Regions from separate parts of the Homo sapiens genome. Here all the other regions are linked to region 1. Evidence: fine-mapped expression QTL. A gene starts in region 1. Each other region holds a variant in brackets. All regions are shown on one strand. Distances are from middle to middle. Region 1 holds the start of WBP2NL (WBP2 N-terminal like). Region 2 overlaps LOC105377203 (a long non-coding RNA gene). Region 3 has its middle 35 kb from the start of WBP2NL.

Evidence for each region.
Region 2: its variant is fine-mapped to the expression of WBP2NL in ovary (GTEx, PIP above 0.99).
Region 3: its variant is fine-mapped to the expression of WBP2NL in whole blood (TOPMed, PIP above 0.99). The same link has a PIP of 0.9 or more in blood mononuclear cells.

Annotation. Positions count from the first base shown.
Region 1 is chr22:41,995,099-42,003,460 of GRCh38, forward strand. It overlaps WBP2NL (WBP2 N-terminal like), which reads left to right and starts at 3,690. Exons shown (of 6, transcript NM_152613.3): 1 at 3,690-3,782. The coding sequence starts at 3,721. SEPTIN3 (septin 3) reads left to right here. Exons shown (of 12, transcript NM_001363845.2): 12 at 1,804-3,123. The coding sequence ends at 1,869. It also overlaps the pseudogene SLC25A5P1. RefSeq lists enhancers at 3,240-3,756, 3,757-4,271, 5,606-6,805 and a silencer at 3,583-3,642.
Region 2 is chr22:42,138,130-42,146,491 of GRCh38, forward strand. It overlaps LOC105377203 (a long non-coding RNA gene), which reads right to left. Exons shown (of 3, transcript XR_938280.2): 3 at 7,323-7,409. It also overlaps the pseudogene CYP2D7. Among named protein-coding and RNA genes, the nearest start is that of CYP2D6, 12 kb to the left of the region's middle. The variant G/A (reference allele first, on the strand shown) is at 4,359.
Region 3 is chr22:42,029,497-42,037,858 of GRCh38, forward strand. It overlaps a transcript of WBP2NL not described here. Among named protein-coding and RNA genes, the nearest start is that of WBP2NL, 35 kb to the left of the region's middle. The variant T/C (reference allele first, on the strand shown) is at 3,168.

The sequences.
Region 1 (8,362 bases):
TCATTTAAAAGTGCTGGGAGCAGGTGAGCCACAGGCAACTCTTCTCTCGGAACCTGCACACAAACTGGGGCTATAGAGATTCTCCAAGGACAGATGGCAGTGGAGCTAGACCTGAGTAGGGGGCAGGGAGTTCAGGACAACCCTCCTGTAAGTTGGGGGTGGTCTGGGGGTAAGGCTGGGGCTTCCTGGGAAAAGGAAGGCCATGAGAAGGCAGAGAAGTAGGCCAGAGCTGGGTTCTTGCAGAAAGCATCAGTGCCTACAAATGGAGCTCCACCCTTCAGTCTGTGTCGTGTTCAGTGTCACAAAGCTACCACCTGTCACCAGAGCCTACTGCTGCTCTCCACTCAACTGGCCTCTGCTGCCAGGCCACTGCCTGTCTCTGCTTCCGACTTTGTCTTCTTTCTCCCTTTCCCTCCTTCCCTCATACATTGCTTTCTCTCCCTCTCCTGCGTGTCTCTGACATCTCTCACTTCCTTTTAGATGAATCTACTTTAGGTTCATTCCTATATTTAGCATTTATGCCCAGTCTACTTCCAGAAATGACTTTAGACTGCCTTTCACATAAAATCACAAAACTACAGGACAGTACAAACAGATTGCCAGAGAAATCTGGGTCAAAGAAAGGAATAGGAAAGAAAGTTTCTGTAGTCAAGCACCTGAACAGGCCCTGAGCTCACAGGCAGCCAATGTAAAGAGGGAAACACAGTGAGTTATGCAGTTCCCAGTGTCCAGTTAAAGGAAGCACACATGCTAGTCATGTGAGACAACCTTTTATTGGGACATCAGGTTCTAGAACTAATTCTAAAGAAGTATCAGAAACAATATACATAATTTGTCTTTCTTAGTAATTTGGCTTCAAAGACAAATTTTTGACCACACCTCCGTTTTCTCCGTCAGACTTCTCTCCCTTCTAAGCAGGCTTCTCTGTTGCTCCATTTGCTTCATACATACTTGACCTCTCTTTTCTATTCCCCATCACTTTTGTGCTGAAGCTAATCATATTTATGTCTGTCTTTCTCTACTTTTCCCTAATTCCCTCTCCTCCTGACTCCTGTAGACATTCCCAATGATACCCACCGTCATACATTTAGGCTTTTCTTGCCTTTCCCTGAAGCCCTGTATTTATTAATGCATATATTTCCCCTGCTTGTTGTACAAGTAAGTTACTCTTTTCCTTTAATCTGTAAGATTCATGAAATTCGGGGCCAGGGAAACAGTTTAGCCTTAGGGAAGGGAAAACACTAAGTGAAACTGTTTACAATAACCTCATACAACCTTCTGTCCCATCTCCTGGTTCAGCCTAGGTGTTTCACTGGTCCTCTATGAATCCCAGCACTTATAATCCCAGTCTTTTATCACTCAGGTGCTAGGAAAAAAAACATAGACTCAAGACCCAAGATTCAATGGACCAGGAGAAAGGGGGGCGGTGATCAGGTCACCAGTGACCCCAACCTATGCTCTCGGTCTTTCCTGGAGGCTGCCAACCCAGCCCTCATCCTCCCTTGCTCACAAAGTTACAGGGTAGGCACCTGTCAGGACAGAACAGCAGCAGCGCTACAGCCCAGAGGTTATACATTTCAACAGAACAGGGATCCTTGGCTACTGTAGAAGCAGTCCTGTATGGAGACCTTGGACCAGCAGGGGAAGATCTATGGGCATGGGAGGTGGGCGTTGGAAAGGCTGAGTAGGAATGGTGCCTGGCACCCCTGAACCATGATCTGAGCCTCCCTGGAGAAGGTATTTTATATGTCTGCTGCCAGCTGCTGGTCTCCACACCCTCAACCGTTCTCAACCCCCCTGCAGGGAGAAGGCCTCCTGGGCACTGTCCTTCCACCTGTGCCAGCCACCCCCTGCCCCACTGCTGAATGAAGGCCATTTCAAGCGCTGCTTCTCACTCCATTCCTCTCAGCTGTTATTGCTGCAGGGCCAAGCCCTTTTTAGTGCTGTGCTCGTCCAGCTCACCACCACAGCCCCTCTCAGCCCTCAGTAGGTGGGAGGGGCCAGCTGCCTCTTTAGGCCAGTTGCATCCTCCATTTATCCAAACCACTCCTCTCCTCCCAGTGGAGTGGGGTTCTGCCAGTACAGCCCTACTGCATCATCTGCGTCAGCCGGTCCTAGCCCATCTGCAGGGTGAAAGAACTCATCAAGAGCTCCTTCTGCCCTTGTAAGCCCATCCCAGCTACTTGTAACCATCTCTAAGGGCAATGGCATTGCTCCCTACCCATTCATCTGCATGAGCTACTCTTGGCTTCCTTAAAGGGTCAAGAAAGCAATTTTTCTGCTTACTAGATTCATTGAGATCAGCTGTGTGAGCCCCAAAGTGGGACAAGGGTGTCTCCTTCATTACTTAAAGATATTCATGAGGGTGGGTCACTACAGATGTTGGGGAGCAAGGGCTAGGATCACTTTTTAAAAAATCACCACTTGTGGCTGTCCCAGAGTGCGGTTGTACATCCTCCCCACCTCATAACGCAGCCACTGAGGAAGAGTGGTTTTCCTAAGAAGACATTGCTGGAGTTGACTTTCTTCTGTCCAAACAAACAAACAAAAACTAAACACACACACAAACCCCCAGAAACCCACAATATGTACACGCTAAGGAAAAACTAGCACCCTTCTGTCCACTCAGCAATAAGAGGGATCTCTTCCCACCTACCCTACCTACTCCTACCCCCAACCCCCTTCCCCATTAATGTGAGTAATGAATTAGCCTGACCACAGGTGGTCACTGTAGGCTAATGGAAAATACCCAAGGGAGGGCAAAGCCCCCCATCAGATGCATGAATGTTTGCGAATGTTGACTGCCACTGCCCCACACACTGTGTCTTTATAGAATTCCCCTTTGCCCACCCTCTTCCTGTCTCCACCTGGACACAACTTGCTCAAAGGCTGGTGACTTGTGGGCCATTCATCTACAACCAAGTCCTGATGGAGCAAGAGGCCCACGCCTAGGGGATGCAAGAACAACCCGTTTCTTAAATGTTACCAGTCCCAGCCAATCTTACGGTGACATTACAGTTAAATTTCCCAATTGAAAACAAGCAAACAGACACTCAAACTGGTCCTGTAATTGTTGCTAGACTTTATGTGTTGTACAACTAAACATTGCTGTTTGAACAGTAACTGCCTGGCCTGTCTTATTTGTGCTCCTTGACCAAATCAGCCATTATGTCATCTCACCCATGTGTGGAGGGTGAGACTCTCTTGGTAAGAAATAGCCACAGATATTAGAGATGAAAACACTTTGTGAGGTCAGTTCATCTTCAGTTGGCGTCAGGTCGGGCCTCAGTCATTATTTTCTAGTGTTTCATAACCAAAGTGAGTAATGGATGGGAGGTTGAGGTGGGAAGATGGCTTGAGCATGGGAGGTTGGAGGTGCAGTGAGCTGAGATCATTCCTGACAGGACCAACCCAAGTCCATACCTAAAGGCAGGGGGCTAAGGGGGCAGGTGAGGTCGGGAGGCCACTCACCTATCACTCACCCCTTCGCGCTCGAGCCAATTCTCAGGGCCCGCCTCTTTCTCCCCTTTCTCGGCGGGGGCCTCTACCCTGACTCCGCCCCGCTCCCCGGGCACTGCCCCACCACGTGACCCGGTCTCGCTCCTCCTCCTCCTCCTCCTTACGTCATAATCTCCGCCCTCCCCTTCAGAACCGCGCCCCACAGCTCGGCGCAGGTCCCGCCCCTTTCCATCTACGGGGCGGCAGGAGGCCCGAAGCAAGATGGCGGTGAATCAGAGCCACACCGAGAACCGCCGCGGAGCCCTCATCCCTAACGGTGAAAGGTGCCTGAGGGGAAGCACGGCGTGCTGTCGGAGGAGAGGAGACGAATGAGATAGACATGGCGGCTCGCAAACTCTCAGCGAGTCAGGGACTTTGCCGCCTTTTTTGGGCGCGGCGCTCTTAGCTCCGCCCCCGACCTTTGGGAGCGCGCGCCCCTCACTGGTGTTCCGGCATGTGGAGGTGGCGGAGGCCGGAACGCGTGGCCTCGCGCGTTTGAGGGGTGGGGGTGGGAATGCGCCTTTTCAAGGCGCGGGGCCCAGACGCATGTCTCCTCAGGGCGGGGCGGGGAGGGGGTGCGAGACGCGTGTGTCCTTCGAAGAGAGGCCGGAGCTGACCGGCGGTTGTGAGCAGCCGGGGGCCTTCGGTGGCAGCGTGGCTGCCCTTGGGTGCCTGCGACTTTGTTGGATGAGGACAGGTACTGGGTGTGTATCTCCTCCTACTTCCACGAACAAGGTGTCGCTCTTTGGTAAGAGGGATGAGGAGGTCGAGTGTGGATCATTCTGGAAAGATCTCAAACTGTTGTGGGGCTTCTCCTTGGACCTGGAAACTTTCTAAAGCCATGTTTCCTCCTTGCTCCAACCAGGGAGATGTCTGCTTTTAAAAACAAAATTGAAAAAATTGAGGCCAGGTGCAGTGGCTCATGCCTCTTATCCCAACAGTTTGGGAAGCTGAGGTGGCCCAGGAGTTTGAGACAAGACTGGGCAACATAGTGAGACCCCATCTCTACAAAAAGTAGAAAATTAGTGGGCCATGGTGGTGTGCACCCATAATCCCAGCTGCTTGGGAGGCGATGGTAAGAGGATTGCTTGAACCCAGGAGTTTGGGCTGCAGTGAGCTCAGATTGTACCACTGCACTCCAGCCTGGGTAACAGAGCCAGATCCTGTCTTAAAATAAAAGATGGGACTGAACAGATGCCTGGGCACAACAAAGCACTGTTGGTCGCAGGAAGCTGTGGGGCTTACACCAGTTGCTTTGCTCCTTGCGGTGCCTGCTGCTGGCCCCTGAGCTCTCTACTGGAGCAGACTCAGCCAGAGGGGTGCCCATCTCCACCTTCAAGCACACTTGTTCACTAAGGCCTGACTCCACTGCGCTCACCTCTTTACCCCACACGCCCCCTTTCCCGTTTCCTACACTCAAACTCAGTCTCCCCCGCTGTGCAGTTCTAAATTGCGCTCCTTTCTGGGCTCTGACTTGCCCTCAATTTCCTTTTCTCCCAACCAGCATTGAAACTCAAGCTGGATGATGTGCTTGGGGCCAGCACACTCAGGTCAGTTTGAATGTAGTTGTCAGGAAGATCGAAGTAGACGTTACCAAATGCTGATATCCAGGTCTTTCTTCTATCTTTCCTTCCTCCAGAAAGTTTTCTTGACAGATTTATATGGGCCTTAGAGGTTGTATGTTCTCACCTGCTTCCTACGTACCTCTGCTGCTTTGTTCCATTTTGTGGTAGATGATTGCTCACCACTCTGACAGTGGTGTCCCCGTGAGCACTTACTGAGAGCCATTTGAGCACTTGTCATTCCATGGTGTGAAGCCTTTCTTTTCTTTTCTTTTTTCTTTTCTTAAGATATTTTTATTTCTCCAAATTTGTTATTTATTAGGAGTGACTGAAATAAAAAACATAATTGAGTCCCATCATCATCATCATCATAGAAATGGCTTTAAGAGAAAACTGGTCAGATGACTATTATTGCTTCCCATTTCCAACCAGTGAATAGTTGCCACTGATAAATTGACAGCGAGGAGTCTGTCAAGAATGCTCAAGATAGCCGGGCGCGGTGGCCCACGCCTGTAATCCCAGCACTTTGGGAGGCCCAGGTGGGTGGATCACAAGATCGGGAGTTCAGGAGCAGCCTGGCCAATATGTTGAAACCCCATCTCTACTAAAAATACAAAAAAAAAAAAAACAGCCGGGAGTGGTGGCGGATGTCTGTAGTCCCAGCTACTCAGGAGGTTGAGGCAGGAGAATTGCTTGAACCCAAAAGGTGAATCACCCAAAAGGTGAACCAAAAGGTTGAGGCAGGAGAATTGCTCCACCAAAAGGTGGAGGTTGCAGTGAGCCGAGATTGTGCCACTGCACTCCACCCTGGGCAATAGAGGGAGACTCCGTCTCAAAAAAAAAGAATGCTCAAGATATGTCATATAATACAACATGCCTGTTCAAAGGGGGAAAAATCTTAGGAAATAACTTACATGTACTTCTTGGTTTCATCATACAAGACAAGCACAAAAGCACCACCCATGCCTCTGAGAACACTGGACCATGCACCCTTGAAAACAGCTTTGCTTCCTTCATCATGAGTAATCTTCCTCCAGCAGTCAAATGTGCCTGTGTACATGATGTCAGTTCCTTTGCATCCTGACTGCATCATCATGTAGCAGCAAATGGTGTTAAATGAATAGGAAGTCAACCCAGCAACGGCAGTGACAGTCTGTGCATCATCCAACTGATGACAATGTGAGTGTTCTTGGGATCCGGAAGCATTCCCTTTGCAGTGTCATAGTTACCGAAGTAGGCAGCAGGCAGCTCGGTAGATAATACCCTGCACAGACACGTTAAAGCCTTGGTACAGGCTCTTAATCCCGTCAGATTTGTAGATCTTAACTAGGCAGTCACCGAAACCTCGCAATTCCCTTTCAGCTCCAGCTTTGCCCACATCAGCTGCTACACGAGTATGGGCAAAATCAAGAGGGTACACAAAACACAAGGATGTGGCCCCAGTGGCACCGCCTGATGCCAGATTCCCTGCAAAGTAGCGCCAAAACTGGGATCTCTTGTCCACACCATCCAGGAAGATCTGCTTGTATTTATCTTTGAAGGTGAAGTTAAGAGCCTGGGTGGGGGAAGTATCTGATGACACTGGCCAGGTTACCGCACCAGGACAGGACTCCGTGCTCCTTGGGAATACAGACCATGCAGTCTCTAATGCCCTTGTATTGCTTATCTGCAGTGATCTGCTTGCTGGCATGCTGCACCTGTAGCAGCAGCTTGACCCGCTCGATGGGTGCTACCGCCATCTTGGAGATGGCTGCGGCCACTCCACCTGCCAGGGAGTCCTTGGCGAAGGACACAGCAGCCTCTGTGATGTCGAAAGAGGAGGCAGGCTGCTGTGGGATGGGACTGGTCCGAGAATCGGCTTTGACTCCGGGGCTGATTGTGAAGTCATTTCTAATTTGGTGTTTGGGTGTCTTCTCACTCGGGCTATGGGTGTCTCTCTACTTCACTGCTTGTGTGTTGGAGAAAGGGAAGGAAGCATGTTTTAAAAAACAAAACACAGAAACACTGATTTTTGTGGTCCTTTGAATTACCTTTATGGGATCCATTTTGTGCTCCTGAATACTTAATAGCATTTATCGAACACTATTTCAAGTACTGTTCTTAGTTCTAAGAGCTTTATACTGTAGTTAAAACCACTTTACCAGCCAGGCGTGGTGGCTCACGCCTGTAATCCCAGCACTTTGGGAGGCCAAGGCCAGTGGATTACATGAGATCAGGAGTTCAAGACCAGCCTGGCCAACATGGTGAAACCCCTGTCCCTACTAAAAATACAAAAATTAGCCAGGCATGGTGGTGCACGTCTGTAATCCCAGCGACTCAGGAGGCTGAGGCACGAGAATTGCTTGAGCCTGGGAGGCAGAGGGGAGGTTGTAGTGAGCTGAGATCATGACACTACACTCCAGCCTGGGTAACAGGGTGAGGCTCTGTCTCAAAACAAAACAAAGTAAAAAAACTCAGTCTATCTACAGTGAAGATCAGTACTGTTTTCCCTCATTTCACAGGTGGGAAAACAAAAAGAAGTCATTTGCTTAAAGCGCATGTGGGAGAGCTTGGATTTGGATTTGAACTTAGGTACTGTGCATAAACTCCTGTACTCCAGCTGTCCCTCTAGAAAGAAAAGGACTCTTTCTCTGTTTTCTTCTCACCAAAGAAGATCCTATTAGTACCCTAGCTTCCTGGATAGAAACTACTTTAAAGAACCAGAGATAGTGGTGCACATCTGTAGTCCCACCTATTCGAGAGGCTAAGGTGGGAGGATCACTTGAGGCCAGGAGTTCAAGACCACGCTGAGCAAAATAGTGGGACCTCATCTCACAGAATAAAATTTAAGAAAAGAAAAAAAAGAAACTATAGCCAGGCATGGTGGCACATGCCTGTAATCCCAGCTGCTTGGGAGACTGAGGCAGGAGAATCGCTTGAACCCAAGGAGGCAGAGGTTACAGTGAACAGAGATCACGCCATTGCACTCCAGCCTGGGCAACAAGAGTGAAACTCCATCTCAAAAAAAAAAAAAAAGTGCCAGCTTATGAGGTAATTACATTGGTTCTCTCCAGAGGGGTAACCTGCCAAGAAGAGATGCTATAGATGTTACTCTTATACTGTAAAACATTGTGAAATCAGATTGCTTAAAAATGATGTATTACAAAGTTATGGAAAAAAGCAGTTGTGACTATGGAAGCCCAAGGCTTATATCCTAGCTCTGTCTTACACTAAATGTGGGTACAGTGTTTCCACTTTTTGTAAAATGGGAGCTAATATCCTCCAACCTGTGTGCCTGACATGGTGATTAAAAGGATTAATCG
Region 2 (8,362 bases), 140 kb after region 1:
ACGTGCTGGTGGTCCTCGCTCGCTCTCAGCGCCTCCTCGGCCTCAGCTTCTGCTCTGACCACACTTGAGGAGCCCTTCAGCCCAGCGCTGCACTGTGGGAGCCCCTCTCTGGACTGGTGGAGGCTGGAGCCGGCTCCGTCTGCTTGCGGGGAGGTATGGAGGGAGAGGCGTGTGCGGGAACCTGGGTTGCTCGCGGGCCAGCACCAGTTCTGGGTGGGCAGGGGCTCAGCGGGCCCTGCACTCGGAGCGGCCGGCTGGTGCCTCTGGCCCCAGGCAGTGAGGGGCTTAGCACCTGGGCCAGCAGCTGCAGAGGGGGCACCGGGTCCCCCAGTACTGCTGGCCTGCCGGCGCTCACCACACTTGAATTGTCGCCAGGCCTCAGTCACCTCCCCGCGGGGCAGGGCTCAGGACTTGCAGCCTGCCATGCCCAAGCCTCCCTACGGTGGGCTCCCTGCGAGGCCCGAGCCTCCCGGATGGGTGCCTCCCACTGCTCCACGGCACCTGGTCCCGTCCACTGCCCAAGGGCTGAGGAGTACAGGTGCCCGGTGTGGGACTAGCAGGCAGCTCTGCCTGTGGCCCTGGCATAGGATCCACTAGGCGAAGCTGGCTGGGCTCCTGAGTCAGGTGGGGACTTGGAGAACTTTTATGTCTAGCCAGAGGATTGTATATGCACCAATCAGCACTCTGTGTCTAGCTCCGGGTTCGTGCATGCACCAATTAGCACTCTATCTAGCTAATCTGGTGGGGACTTGGGGAACCTTTATTTCTAGCTAAAAGATTGTAAATACACCAATCAGCACTCTGTGTCTAGCTCAAGGTTTGTAAACACACCAGTCAGCACCCTGTGTCTAACTCAAGGTTTGTAAACGCACCAATCAGTGCTCTCTGTCTACTCTATCTAGCTAATCTAGTGGGGACTGGGACAACCTTTATGTCTAGCTAAGGGATTGTAAATACACCATTCAGCACTCTGTGTCTAGCTCAAGGTTTGTAAATATACCAATCAGTACTCTGTGTCTAGCTCAGGGATTGTAAATGCACCAATCAGCTCTCTGTAAGTGGACCAATCCACTGTCTGTAAAATGGGCCAATCAGCAGGATGTGGGTGGGGGTCAGATAAGGGAATAAAAGCAGGCTGCCTGAAGTAGCAGCGGCAACCTGGTTGCCATCATTCTTTTGCTGTTTGCAGTAAGTCTTGCTGCTGCTGCTCCCTCATTGGGTCCACACTGCCTTTATGAGTTGTAACACTGGAAGGACTGCAGTTTCACTCCTGAGGCCAGTGAGACCACAAACCCACCAGGAAGAATGAACAACTCCGTACGTGCAGCCTTAAGAGCCGTAACACTCACTGTGAAGGTCTGCAGCTTCACTCCTGAAGCCAGCAAGACCACGCACCCACCAGAAGGAAGAAACTCTGAACACGTCTTAACATCAGAAGGAACAAACTCTGAACACACCATCTTTAAGAACTGTAACACTCACCGTGAGGGTCCACGGCTTCATTCTTGAAGTCAGTGAGACCAAGAACCCACCAATTTTGGACACAAGGTGACAGGCTGAGGGCGGTGGCTCGGTCCTGGGTTTTCCTGGGGCCTTCCCAGGGAATGTTCTGGCACCTGCCGACTGAGCCCTGGGAGGTAGCCCTGGCATATAGCTCCCTGACATGATTTGTCTTCCATTTTGGGGTGTCATATATGAAGGGAGGTGACTGTTGTGATGGTGCTGGCAGGACTGCTGTCCCTGATGTGGGGTGGGCTGAGTTAGGCCTGAAATATGGGCCTCCAGGCTGAGTCCTGCCCTCTCCACCACATCCAGGGCTGACTGACACCTCTAGTCAGCCCATTCTGGCCCCTTCCCCACATGCCAGGACAATGTAGTCCTTGTCACCAATCTGGGCAGTCAGAGTTGGGTCAGTGGGGGACATGGGATTATGGGCAAGGGTAACTGACATCTGCTCAGCCTCAACGTACCCGTCTCAAATGCGGCCAGGCGGTGGGGTAAGCAGGAATGAGGCAGGGGTGGGGTTGCCCTGAGGAGGATGATCCCAACGAGGGCGTGAGCAGGGGACCCAAGTTGGAACTACCACATTGCTTTATTGTACATTAGAGCCTCTGGCTAGGGAGCAGGCTGGGGACTAGGTACCCCATTCTAGCGGGGCACAGCACAAAGCTCGTAGGGGGATGGGGTCACCAGAAAGCTGACGACACGAGAGTGGCTGGGCCGGGGCTGTCCGGCGGCCACGGAGAAGCTGAAGTGCTGCAGCAGGGAGGTGAAGAAGAGGAAGAGCTCCATGCGGGCCAGGGGCTCCCCGAGGCATGCACGGCGGCCTGTGGGGAGGGGAGGGGCGTCAGTGAGCCTGGCTCCTGGGTGATACCCCTGCAAGACTCCACGGAAGGGGACAGGGAGCCGGGCTCCCCACAGGCACCTGCTGAGAAAGGCAGGAAGGCCTCCGGCTTCACAAAGTGGCCCTGGGCATCCAGGAAGTGTTCGGGGTGGAAGCGGAAGGGCTTCTTCCAGACGGCCTCATCCTTCAGCACCGATGACAGGTTGGTGATGAGTGTCGTTCCCTGGGCAGGAGATGCAGGGTGAGAGTGGGGACTGGACTCTAGGATGCTGGGACCCCTGCCACCAAACACACGGGGGACACACACTGCCTGGCACACAGCTGGACTCTGTCAACTAGTCCTGCGCCCGAGAAGCTCCACAGTACCCTCTCCGACCCCACAGCAGGGCGCAGTCACACCTCTCAGAGGCACCCACACTGCCCCCTCTCCCTGCAGGCGCTGGGTCCTCCAACATTCTGGCAGGTCCTGATTTGTCTTCCCCACTAGACGGGGGCTCTGGATGGACAGGCCAGCCCTGCCTATACTCTGGACCCCCCATCCAAGCGGGGACAGTCAGTGTGGTGGCATTGAGGACTAGGTGGCCAGGGTTCCTAGAGTGGGCCCACCTGGCAGTAGCCATGCTGGGGCTATCACCAGGGGCTGGTGCTGAGCTGGGGTGAGGAGGGCGCCAGGCCTACCTTAGGGATGCGGAAGCCCTGTACTTCGATGTCACGGGATGTCATATGGGTCACACCCAGGGGGACGATGTCCCCAAAGTGCTGCACCTCGTGAATCACGGCAGTGGTGCAGGGCATGTGAGCCTGGTCACCCATCTCTGGTCGCCGCACCTGCCCTATCACGTCGTCGATCTCCTGTTGGACACGGACTGGACAGACATGCGTCCCCACAATGGGTCAGCACCCAGGGGACACTCTCCTTCCTCCTGTGTTGGAGGAAGTTAGGCTTACAGGAGCCTGGCCACGCCTGTGCTGGAAGCCCCGGGTGTCCCAGCTAAGCCCAGGGGCCCCCAGCTGTACCCTTCCTCCCTCAGTCCCTGCCTTGGGCCCCAGCTGGGCTCACGCTGCACATCCAGGTGTAGGATCATGAGCAGGAGGCCCCAGGCCAGCGTGGTCGAGGTGGTCACCATCCCGGCAAGGAACAGGTTACCCACCACTATGCGCAGGTTCTCATCATTGAAGCTGCTCTCAGGGCTCCCCTTGGCCTGAGCAGGGCCGAGAGGATACTCAGGGGATAGAACGGGGTAGCCCCCAAATGACCTCCAATTCTGCACCTGTCAGCCCAGATGCGGCTCGCCGGGTGATGCACTGGTCCAACCTTTTGCCCAGCCTCCCCTCATTCCTCCTGGGACGTTCAACCCACCACCCTTGCCCCCCACCGTGGCAGCCACTCTCACCTTCTCCTTCTTTGCCAGGAAGGCCTCAGTCAGGTCTCGGGGTGGCTGGGCTGGGTCCCAGGTCATCCTGTGCTCAGTTAGCAGCTCATCCAGCTGGGTCAGGAAAGCCTTTTGGAAGCGTAGGACCTTGCCAGCCAGCGCTGGGATGTGCGGGAGGACGGGGACAGCATTCAGCACCTACACCAGACAGAACGGGGTCTCAATCCCTCCTGTGCTCTGCGTTCACCTGGACCAGTCTCAGGCCCCAGCCATCTCCAGGAAGACCCAGGGCCTGCCTGTCCTTACCACTGACCTCACCAAGTCCCTCCCCAAGTGCCAGCCTCCACCCTCTCTCTCCTTGCCCAGAGGAGAAACCTAAAATCGAAATCTCCAACGTGGACGGGGGTACAGAGTCCTTGGCCTCTCCTGGTGCCCCCTGACCCGGGCACACCTCTCCCACGACCATGTCTGAGATGTCCCCTCCTCCTCCAGGCCCTTCTTACAGTGGGGTCTCCTGGAATGTCCTTTCCCAAACCCATCTATGCAAATCCTGCCCTTCGGAGGCCCCAGTCCAGCCCCGGCACCTCTCAGGAGCTCGCCCTGCAGAGACTCCTCGGTCTCTCGCTCCGCACCTCGCGCAG[G/A]AAGCCCGACTCCTCCTTCAGTCCCTCCTGAGCTAGGTCCAGCAGCCTGAGGAAGCGAGGGTCGTCGTACTCGAAGCGGCGCCCGCAGGTGAGGGAGGCGATCACGTTGCTCACGGCTTTGTCCAAGAGGCCGTTGGGGCGAAAGGGGCGTCCTGGGGGTGGGAGATGCGGGTAAGGGGTTGCCTTCTCCGTCCCCCGCCTTCCCAGTTCCCGCTTTGTGCCCTTCTGCCCATCACCCACCGGCTTGGTCGGCGAAGGCGGCACAAAGGCAGGCGGCCTCCTCGGTCACCCACTGCTCCAGCGACTTCTTGCCCAGGCCCAAGTTGCGCAAGGTGGACACGGAGAAGCGCCTCTGCTCGCGCCACGCGGGCCCATAGCGCGACAGGATCACCCCTGGGGGCGGGACGGGCACGTGGGCGTTGCCATGAAGGCCTTGGCCCCACCCTCCGCCACCCACTCCAACCCTGGCGCTCCACAAGGTCTCCCGCAGTCCCTAGCCCGGTCCAGCTGGGCACAGGGCCCACTCTTTGCTCACCCACATTGCTCCCCTGCCTGGGGCGGGGTTTGGCCCCACCTCGTCTCTGCCCACCCTGACCACCTTTCCACTCAAGGAAGATCCCGCCCGTCCCGCCCACACTGAGCCCGCAGCATAGGCGCGGTCCCCGCCACCGCCACTTCGACGCATCAGCCTCGCCCACCGGGCTTCTGGCGGGTCTGGGCAGTAGCCCCGCCCCCTCCCAGCCCACAGACTCGCACCTCCCCCGTGCAGGTGGTTTCCTGGCCCACTGTCCTCAGCCCACTCGCTGGCCTTTATCTCTGTTTCACGTCCAGGACCCCACGCCCTGTCGGCGCTGCTTGGGCTACGGTCACTGTCCACCCGGGGCCCACGGAAACGCGGTCTCTGTCCCCCACCGCCGCTTGCCTTGGGAACGCGGCCCGAAGCCCAGGACCTGGTAGATGGGCGCAGGCGGGCGGTCGGCCGTGTCCTCGCCGCGGGTCACCATCGCCTCGCGCACGGCCGCCAGCCCATTGAGCACGACCACCGGCGTCCAGGCCAGCTGCAGGCTGAACACGTCCCCGAAGCGGCGCCGCAACTGCAGAGGGAGGGTCAGGGCCTCTTGTCAAGCCAGGATCACCCCAGACTACAGGTCCTAGTCCTATTTGAACCTTGGACGACCCCCGGGGCTACCAGGAGTGAGCAGGTGGAAGGAGGAGACCCAGCCTCCTGATCGTGGGGCGGGGGTGGGGGTCACACCTTCTGTGATGGAGGAACTCAGTTTGGATGCGTCACCCAGGTATGACCTTGCAAGAGTCACCAAAATTGCCGAGAGGCCCCAGTTAGCATCCCATTCCCAGATGATGGTCCATGCCGGTGAGCAGTGAGGCCCGAGGACCCACAGTGCAAAAGGTTTGAACCGGGTCACTGCACCCCCTTCATCCTCGATTTCGTGATTTAAACGGCACTCAGGACTAACTCATCTTCCATTCCCAAGGCCTTTCCTTCTGGTGTCAGCAGAAGGGACTTTGTACTCCATAACATATGTTGCCCAATGGGCTTGCATGCCCACTGCCAAGTCCAGCTCCACCTCCAGGCCCTTGCCCTACTCTTCCTTGGCCTTTGGAAAATCCAGTCCTTCATGCCATGTATAAATGTCCTTCCCCAGGACGTCCCCCAAACCTGCTTCCCCTTCTCAGCCTGGCTTCTGATCCAGCCTGTGGTTTAACCCACCACCCATGTTTGCTGGTGGTGGGGCATCCTCAGGACCTCTGCCGCCCTCCAGGACCTCCTCCCTCACCTGGTCGAAGCAGTATGGTGTGTTCTGGAAGTCCACATGCAGCAAGGTTGCCCAGCCCGGGCAGTGGCAGGGGACCTGGCGGGTAGCGTGCAGCCCAGCGTTGGTGCCGGTGCATCAGGTCCACCAGGAGCAGGAAGATGGCCACTATCATGGCCAGGGGCACCAGTGCTTCTAGCCCCATGGCTGCCTCACTACCAACTGGGCTCCTCTGGACACACCTGGCACCCCCACCCCACCAGGCACAGAGGACCAGGCAGGACACTCTCGGCACACCGAGCGCGTGACCCTTCCCTTATAAAGGGAGCTGATGATGGCCTTCGCCCTCTGCTGTGAGTGAACCTGCTGTGTTGACTGTGCTGCCAGTGGCAGAGTCAGGCCAGGGCAGGTATGGGCTGCTCCAGAGGTCCTTGCCGCTGCTTCCTGCTCCAGGCCCTTACCCAGGGTAGGGTGGTAGAAAGGCCTGGTCGGAGAAGTCACCCCCTCTCCCCACTCCAAGCTCCCCAAGCCCACACAGGCTTCTGGGATAACCAGGGTCTCAGTGGACCCGGCCATCCACCTCCCAGCTAGGCTCATACACCCTAATGTAGTCACAACCCCTCCTCCAGAACATGACCTTGCCCTTTCCCTACCCCCACCTGCCCACTCCAGAGTGACCTTCAGCACCCTTATCTGTCACTGGCACTTACCTGGGGCCTTAGAGCTCCTGATGATGAGTGGCATCATGGGCCTGGTCCCTTCACTTCACCTTGCACTCTTGACATGCACAGACGCTATGCACACACCTGATGGTGCACAGATCTCTTGTCCACTCCCAGACACTTGTCCACTTGTTCACACTTGCAGGGACACGATTACACATGCAGAAAATCACCCACACAAAGACAATATTCACACATACACAGACTCACACTGACACTCAGGGCACACATTCTCTCTCACACACACCAGTCACACACACATACAGACCCGGCACCAAGTACCCCACTTCCCAGCCATGCCCGAGGTTTCCTGGATGGGACCTCTCCTGTCCAGAGGCTGCTCCCGGTGAGCCTCAAAGCTGTCACATGGATCCCAGCTCAGCCCACATTCTGGGCTCTGGCCGGGCCATGACTTCCTGTTTGCAACAGGGCTGTTCCCAGAGCTCCCAGTTGGTAGCCTGAAGGCCGTTGCCCCAGCCTGTGACAGCATCCTCCAGGGCTGCCTGAGGGTCGTCATTCTCCACTGCTTCCTGGCCTCCATGTTTCTGATTAGAAATCTGGTGGAAACATTATGGAGGATCCTTTATTTAGGATATGTTGCTTTTTTATTTTTATTTTTTCTTTAGACAGGGTCTCACTCTGTTGCCCGGGCCGGAGTGCAGTGGCAGGATCATGGCTCACTGCAATCTCAACATCAAGTGGACCTCCTGCCTCCCAAGTAGCTGGGACTACAGGCACCACCGAGCCCAAATAATTTTTTTTTTGAGACGGAGTTTTGCTCTGTCGCCCAGGTGGGAGTGCAATGATGCGATCTCGGCTCACTGCAACCTCCACCTCCAGGGTTCAAGCGATTCTCCTGCCTCAGCCTCCCAAGTAGCTGGGATTACAGGTGCCCACCACCATGCCTGGCTGATTTTTTGTACAAGAAGTTTATAGAACACCAAGCAGATTTAACCCAAAGAAGACGACCTCAAGGCATCTGATAATTAAACTCCGAAAGGTCAAGGATAAAGAAAGGATCCTAAAAGCAGCAAGAGAAAAGAAACAAATAACATGCAGTAGAGCTCCAATACATGACATGGGGCAGCCACCTTTCCAGTGGAAACCTTACAGGCCAGGGGGGAGTGGCATGACATATTTAAAGTGCTGAAGGAAAAAAAACTTTTAGCCTAGAATAACGTATCTGGCAAAAATATCCTTCCAACAGGAAGGAGAAATAAAGACCTTCCCAGACAAACAAAAGCTGCGAGATTTCATCAACACCAGACCTATATCCCACAAGAAATGCTAAAGGGAGTTTTTCAATCTGAAAAAAAAAAGGATATTAATGAGCAAGAAGAAATCATCTAAAGGTACAAAACTCACTGGTAATAGTAAGCACACAGAAAAACAGAGTATTATAATACTGTAATTGTGGTGTGTAAACTACTCTTATTTTAATTAGACTAAATGATGAACCAATCAAAAATAATAAGTACTTTTCAAGACAGACAGTACAGTAAGACATAAA
Region 3 (8,362 bases), 34 kb after region 1:
GAGTAGCTGGGATTACAGGCAGGTAAAACCATGCCCAGCTAATTTTTTTTATTTTTATAGAGATGGGGTCTGGCCATGTTGGCCATGCTGGTCTTGAACTCCTGGCCTCAAGCAATCCTCCTGTCTCAGCCTCCTGAAGTGCTGGGATTACAGGCATGAGCCACTGCGCCTGGCCTTCTATGCATATTTCTTATATGTAGTTGAAATCATGCTATATAATGTTTCACCAGATATTTTACATTTTCATAGGTTTTGAAGAAATGCTTGTAAATATTGTTAGTGACCACATAATATTCTGTGACACAGTTACACCATAACGTATTTTCTCAGTCCCTCTTTTAAGGTATTTGAATTGTTTCCAGGTTTTTGTTATTACAACTTCATGATTAACTTCTTTGTATATGGAGCTTTTTAAAAGTTTTAAATGCTTTCCTTAACACAGCTTAGAGTCATTGATTGATCTGCATTGTGAAAATTAGGAAACCAGATGCTCCCATGTTCTCAAGGACAGCCTTTCTTAAGGAAGTCAGGTAGATATTAATGGGTTTTATGTGAAATGGAGTAACTGGGTTAAATATAATTGAAAAAGACAAGAAAACTGGTTTCTTTACTACTTCTTAGAGCCTTGACTATACTAATGGACATAATCTCCAAGAAGGAGAGATTTTCAAAATTTACAGTTTTTTCAAAATTATTTGATTTTAGAATATTCAGTAAACATTTTGTTCAGTGGAAGAAACTGAGAAACACTTTCTGGAATTATGGGATATTAGAATTAGAATGGACTTCAGGTATCTGGAGTATGCTAGACCTTAAAGCTCTTTCCAAAAATGAAGACAAGTCAAAAGACCATTCTTCCTTCCATTCCAAATAAAAGAGCTTTATATCCAATTTACAGAAAGCAGGGTGGGACATCTTGAAGATAAAATATATAGAAAGTAGCTGCTGCTTCCTCTCAGAAATTACTGGGATAGAGTTATGGGTCTAGGAAGCTGGAATGTCAAAACACAGGGACAGCCACTTTGCCCAGGCAACTGGCATGAAGGGAAGAAGTGAAAAGGGAAAGTGTGGCTGTAAACCTCTCTAAAGTTTCCAAACAGGGAATCCAGGCAATATTGGATCTTAAACATGGGTCATAGGATCTGGCGCTTTTATCCCTAAAATTTTTGGAGGAAAATAACGAGATATTTTAAGTTTCTTCTTTTCTTACTTCCAAACTACAGTACGTGGGCAACAGTGATGAGAGGAAGAGAGGAGAGACTCAACCAACTAGAGCAGGGATAAGGTTTCCCTTGTTCAGCTTTTCAGTGTCTGCTGGAATGTGATGGTAAGTTGAGAACAGGGTGAATGGGTGAGGCCTTTTTTATATCAGAAAGTTTTCCGAGTAACTGATCTCTGGCAAATATTTGGGGATTAGAATTCTAAAAGAATACAAACTAGACTTCTCTTCTGCTCTTCATGTTAGTTATACTTGTACCAGGTAGATTTGAGGTGGGGTCCAGTTACCTGAAAAGCGTAGCAGGTTCGAGTTTCTTAAAGGTGGAATTCCACCATGTTCTCCTGTGCAAAGGGTACCTGTTTACCTGGTCCACCAAACTGCCCCAGTACAACCAAAGGCTGTGACTGTGTAAGGATAGAACCAAGTGGAGCCACAGTTTGGACCCACGTGGTGCTGCGTGGCACACCTACTGTTAGTTAGCTCCCACTGTCTGGTACAGTTGTTTCCCCCAAAGGCTCAGTCCAATTTGTTCTATAAGAAGAGCTTTGTGTCCTGTATATTCAAAGGACCCTGGTTTTTGCTTTGCTGAGGACAAATCCAGTCAGAATTCAGCTGAGCCTTCTGCATGCTGAGAGCACTCATGTGCTGAGTTCCTCAGCTCCTCACTGACGTTTTGAGTACTTTCTTTCTGACTCACTCACTGTGCTGGTGGATTCCGCTCTTCCTGTCTCTTCCCCAGCTGCAATACAGAAACTATACTCTGTTGTCTACTCTTTCATTTCCTATTAGAAATATAAAGGGATAGAAATAAGAAGACCTTTTAGTCCTGGACTATCTGGTATTGGCCCCTAAAATGAGCCTCCAAATACTCCTTTTCATGGGTAAGTGGATGCTCCCCAGCCTGCTGGAGCAGAACCTTCCTGGCTCAGCTACCCTGAGATATCAGGACAAAAACATATAGTTGGTGTGATTTTCCTCTTTTTGTTTTTTTTTTTTTCAAGATAGAATCTGGCTCTGTCCCCCAGGCTGGAGTGCAGTGGCGCGATCTCGGCTCACTGCAACCTTTGCCCCACAGGTTTAAGCGATTCTCCTGCTTCAGCCTCCTGAATAGCTTGGATGACAGGTGCCTGCCACCATGCTCGGCTAATTTTTGTGTTTTTAGTGGAGACAGGGTTTCACCATGTTGGCCAGGCTGGTTTCGAACTCCTGACCTCAAGTGATCCACCCGCCTCGGCCTCCCAAAGTGCTGGGATTACAGGCATCGGCCTGTGCCTGGCCGATTTTTCAATCCATAGATTAATATGTTCAAGAAATATTGCATGTCTTTGTTTTCTGTAAATTTATTTCTGTTACCAAGATCCCCACCACCATCTGCTTTGTTGGTGGGCTTCTCACAAATCCTAAGATTATGCAAAGGTATCCAGATTTTATTTGGCACCAAGATGCTGAGAAGTTTCTTCTGGTCATCAGACTGCTTCTGAAACAGCCACTATCCAGTCCTGGCAGTCCCGTCAAGTCTAAAAGCTTGTTGCCTTGGGACCCCAGAATCTTAGGTAGGGCTTAGAACCAGGGTGTCAGAGATCCAACTCTGTGTACCATATTGCTCCTTAGAACTGGGGAGTAGGACCCCAAAGGCCTCCTTATCCTTGAGAGTCTGACAATTCCTTAAACTTCCAGATTCTGCCCTCTCAGCTGTGCTGTTGGTCTGCATCACCTCTATCTCTTAAGCATCTATCCTAATCCAAATCTCAGGATTTGGGTTTACCCAAAAGGTAATAGAAAGCCTTTGCCTTCATGTTGACTTGGCTTTCCTTGCCTAGCACTTGGTTGCTTGCTTGAAAATCATGTATGTATATATATAAAATGTAGAAGCCCAATTCAAATTAATAATGTAAAAATTTATTCTGTTACACAGATTACCTCATTGTCAGGTAGGAAGTGAAACGTA[T/C]GATATTCTTCCTGGCCTTTGCCTTGAGAGTCTTCTGGAGCCTGAAGAGGGTGGGGCAGACAACCATGGACTGCTAGAGAATAAACTTTCTTTGAAGCTTCCTAAATGGATTAGAAAGAAGGGGTTCTGTCAAAGGGAAAGGGTCTATACAGATGTGACCAGCAGTTTGATTAGTTTAGATGTATGATTTAGTAGCCAATATAAGAAACTTGTAATTTTTAGTAATTAGAATTTATTATAAATAATAAAACAGGGTATTAATTATTAATATTATGGTATCTTTGGGGTGTCACTTTTCTGGCCAGAAACCTCTGTGGACAAGTGGCACCTCTGCCCAAGTATTGCTTGGGCCCACTGGGCTCATTCCACCCACCCGGCCTGACAGGCTGCACTTGGCTCATGCTACTGGCCTGGATCCCATGCCTGCCAAGGGAGATTGCATGGAGTGACAAGGGGTGTGTGGGGAAGTGTGGGGTCTGGCTATTTTTCAGTCAGATGTGCCAGCTGCTGCAGTGGGGTGGTCAGCTCCAGGTACCAGCATGGGCACCAGCTCTCCACGAGGCTGCAGCTGGACCAGTCGCACTCCAAGCAGCTTCCACAGCTGGCACCAGGGAAAAGGTGGTGCCCAGAAGCTTGGAGATGCCAGGAACCATAGGGCCCCAAAGAGGGAGTCACAGCCCTGGCTTGGAGAGCTCCCAGGTCTGGGCTTCCCAAAGGGCTGCAGCTCTTCTTTTCTTCTCTTTGCCCACAACATGTTGAGCAAGGGGCATGTCTCAACCCTGTTTGTGTTACAGGTCTTTTAGCCTCATTTAGTGGGTCCAAAGTTCTTCAATGAGGTGCACAGACAAGTAGAGGGTGAGCAATGAGAATGAGGTACACAGACAAGTGGAGGGTGAGCAAGACAAACAGGAGCTATTGAGTGACAATAGCTCAGAGGAGGCCTTGGAGTGGGTAGCTCCTATCTGCAGGCAGGTCTTCCTGTCATCTCTGTGGCTCTCAGCAGAGAGGAGGCCCTGGAGTGGGTAGCTCTTCACTGCAGCTCATTGTGCTGATGTCTGCTGCTCTCAACAGAGAGGGGTCCTGGAATGGGTAGCTCCTCTCTGCAGCTGGTCGTCCCAACATCTGCTTAGCTCTGGCTGAGCCCAGGGATTTTATGGGCCTCAGAGGGGAAGAAGTACATATCGATTGGTCCATATGTGGCCATGGGCAGGCCCAGAAAAGCCATCACAAGTTCTCACTCCAGTCCATGGGACTGGCATCCTGGCCCCCAGCTTTCAAGCCCTCCCTGGCCTGAAGGTGTGACGTCACCAGGGACCCATCCCCTTCTACCCAGGAACCTGTCTGCCTCCTTCCGTTGATGGTACCCAGGCTGTAGGTGCCAAGCCAAGCTGCCCTCAGCTCCCCTCAGTTTCCTTCTATGCTCATTGTGCCCAAAATCTGGAGGGGGCCAGGGCGGCAGGGGGCTGGTGTGTCAGCACTGCCCAACTTTGCTCTGAGATCAGAGAAGGCAGGGAGAAGCTAGGCAGTAGGAACAGGCATTTCCATGCCTGCAAGGGCAAGGGGGTATCGGGGGACCTGCCCCAATAATCACGTAGGTTCTTTTCTATTTTCCTAAGCGTCGGCTGACTTGAGAAATAAAAGGACAGAGTACAAAAGAGAGAAATTTTAAAGCTGGGCATCCGGGGGAGACATCACACGTTGGTAGGATCTGTGATGCCCCACAAGCCACAAAAACCAGCAAGTTTTTATTAGGGATTTTCAAAAGGGGAGGGAGTGTGCGAATAGGTGTGGGTGACAGACATCAAGTACTTAACAGGGTAATAGAATATCACAAGGCAAGTGGAGGCAGGGTGAGATCACATTGCTAATGAAGTTTCAGGCACCATTGTCATTGATAACATCTTATCAGGAGACAGGGTTTTGAGATCACCCGGTCTGACCAAAGTTTATTAGGCGGGAATTTCCTCTTCCTAATAAGCCTGGGAGCGCTATGGGAGACTGGAGTTTATTTCACCTCTGCAATCTCGACCATAAGAGACAGGTACGCCCCGGGGGGGCCAGTTCAGAGACCTACCCCTAGGTGCGCATTCTCTTTCTCAGGGACTTTCCATGCTGAGAAAGGAATTCAGTGATATTTCTCCCATTTGCTTTTGAAAGAAGAGAAATATGGCTCTGTTCTGCCCGGCTCACCGGTGGTCAGAGTTTAAGGTTATCTCTCTTATTCCCTGAACAATTGCTGTTATCCTGTTCTTTTTTCAGGGTGCCCACATTTCATATTGCTCAAACACATATGCTGTACAATTTGTGTAGTTAACGCAATTATTACAGGGTCCTGAGACGATACACATCCTTCTCAGCTGACAGGATTAAGAGATTAAAGCAAAGACAGGCATAGGAAATCACAAGGATATTTACTGGGGAAGTGATAAGTGTCCATTAAATCTTTACAATTTATGTTTAGAGACTGCAGTAAAGACAGGCATAAGAAATTACAAAAGTATTAATTTGGGGAACTAATAAATGTCCATAAAATCTTCACAATCCACATTCTTCTGTCATGACTTCAGCCGGTCCCTCCGTTTGGGGTCCCTGACTTCCCGCAACAAGGGGGGCCTTCCTGGGCCCCCAAGAGTGCAAGGATGCCTGGGTCTGCAGCCACGGTTTGGGCAGCTGGAGCTGTGCCTGGGAGGGTGGAGCTCCCACCTGCCCCTCTGGGCCCTGAGAGCACAGGGATGCCTGGGTCTGCAGCCACGGCTTGGGCGGCTGCAGCAGCATCCAGGAAGCTCTCACCCCAACTTGGAAGGGGCGGGTCTCGCGCTTGTCCCTGGCTTTTGCCTTCTCCATGGAGCATGCAGCCCTGGCCATGCCTAGTTGCTGCAGCCAGCGTGATGGCAGCAGCTGCTCCAGATGGCCTGCTGCTGCCATCATTAATATGTAGCTATTAAACACAGTTGGTGAATCACTTTTTTGTCTCTTAAATTATTTTGCAATAATTTAATATTTATGACATACAAAAATTATATATATTTAATGTATACAACTGAATGTTTTTGTGAAACATTGTGAAATGACCATCACATTCCAACTAATTAACATATCTATTACCTGTATATAGTTACCATTTTTATACCCTTTGACCAACATCCTCCATTTCCCCCTCTTCCCAGCCCCTGGCAACCACCATCCTACTTTCTGTTTCTATAGTTTGACTATTTTAGATTCTACATAAAAGGGAGATCATGCAGTATTTCTCTTTCTGTGTCTTGCCTATTTTGTTTAACATAACTTCCTCCAGCTTCATTCATTTTGTTACAAATGGCAGGATTTTCTTTTTTAAAGGCTGAATAATAGTCTGTTTTGTATGTGTGTATAATCACATTTTCTTTATCTGTTCATCACTGAAGGACATTTAGGTTGTTTCCATATCTTGACTGTCGTGCAAAATGCTACAGTGAACAATGGGAGTACAGATATCCCTTTACTATCCTATAGGATTGTTTGATCATATGTTCTATTTTTTTTTTTCTTTGAGACCAAGTCTCGCTCTGTCGCCCAGGTTGGAGTGCAGTGGCGTGATCTGGGCTCACTGCAAGCTCTGCCTCCTGGGTTCACACCATTCTCCTGCCTCAGCCTCCCGAGCAGCTGGGACCACAGGCATCTGCCACCATGCCCGGCTAATTTTTTTTACTTTTAGTAGAGATGGGGTTTCAGCATGTTAGCCAGGATGGTCTTGATCTCTTGGCCTTGTGATCTCCCCGCCTCGGCCTCCCAAAGTGCTGGGATTACGGGCGTGAGCCACCGTGCCCGGCCATGTGTTCTATTTTTAATTTTTTGGGAACCTTCATACTTTTTCCATAATGGCTGTATGAATGTATATTCCTAACAGCAGTGTACAAGGGTTCTCTTTTCTCCACATCCTTGACAACATTTGTTATCTTTTATCTTTTTGATAATAGCCTAAAAGGTGTGAAGTGATATCTCATTATGGTTTTGATCTGCATTTACCTGATGATTACAAATGTTGAACACATTTTCATATGCTTATTGGCCATCTGAATTTCCTTTTTTGAGAAGTGTCTATTTTGGTTCTTGGCCCATTTTTTAATCCAGTTATTTGTATTTTTAGCATTGAGTTGTATGAGTTCCTTATATATTTTGGATATTAATCCCTTATCAGCTATATAGTTTCCAAACATTATTTTCCCATTCTGTAGGTTGCCTTTTCATTTTTTGGATTATTTCTTCTGCTCTGCAGAAGCTTTTTAGTTTGATGTAATCCCACTTGTCTATTTTTTCTTTCATTGCCTGTGCTTTTGGTGTCATATTGAGAAAATTATTACAAGACCAATGTCAAGGTTTTCCCAATGTTTTCTTCGAGGAATTTTGCAGTTTCAAGTTTTACATTTGAGCCTTTTGTCTATTTGAGTTGATTGTTGTGTAGTATGAGATGGGGTCAGATTTCATTTGTGTGTGTGTGTGTGTGTGTGTGTGTGTGTGTGTGTAGATACCCAGTTTTTCCAGTACTGTTTATTGAACAGATTATCCTTTCCCGATTGTGTGTTCTTAGCACCCTTGTCAAAGTAAGTTGTTCATTAATATGTGAGTTTATTTCTGGGTTCTCTGTTCTGTTCCATTTTGTCTGTGTCTGTTTTTATGCCAGCACCATACTATTTTGGTGATAGCTTTGTAAGATAGATAATTTGTAGTCAGGAAGTGTGATGTCTCCAGCTTTTTGTTCTCGTTCAAAATTGCTTTGGCTATTCAGGGTTTTTTGTAGTTCCATATGAATTTTAGGATTTTTTTTTTCTATTTTTATAAAAAGTGCAATTGGGATTTTGATAGGGATTGCATTGAATCTGTAGATTGCTTTAGGTAGTATGGACACTTAGACGATATTAATTCTTCCAATCTGTGAACATGAGATGTCTTTCCACTTATTTGTGTTTTTATTCCATTTATTTGTGTCAGTTATTTTGCTGAGTCCCGTAAATTCCTAAGTATTTTAAAATTTTTGTTGCTAAAGTAAATGAGGTTGCATTCTTAATTTCCCTTTCAGATAGTTCATCTTTGGTATATAGAGATGCTATGGAGTTTTATATGTTGATTTTGTGTCCTGAAACTACGGAATTCATTCATTAGTTCTACCAGTTTCGGGGGGAGGTGCGGGGAGAGAGAGAGAGAGTGAGAGTGTGTGT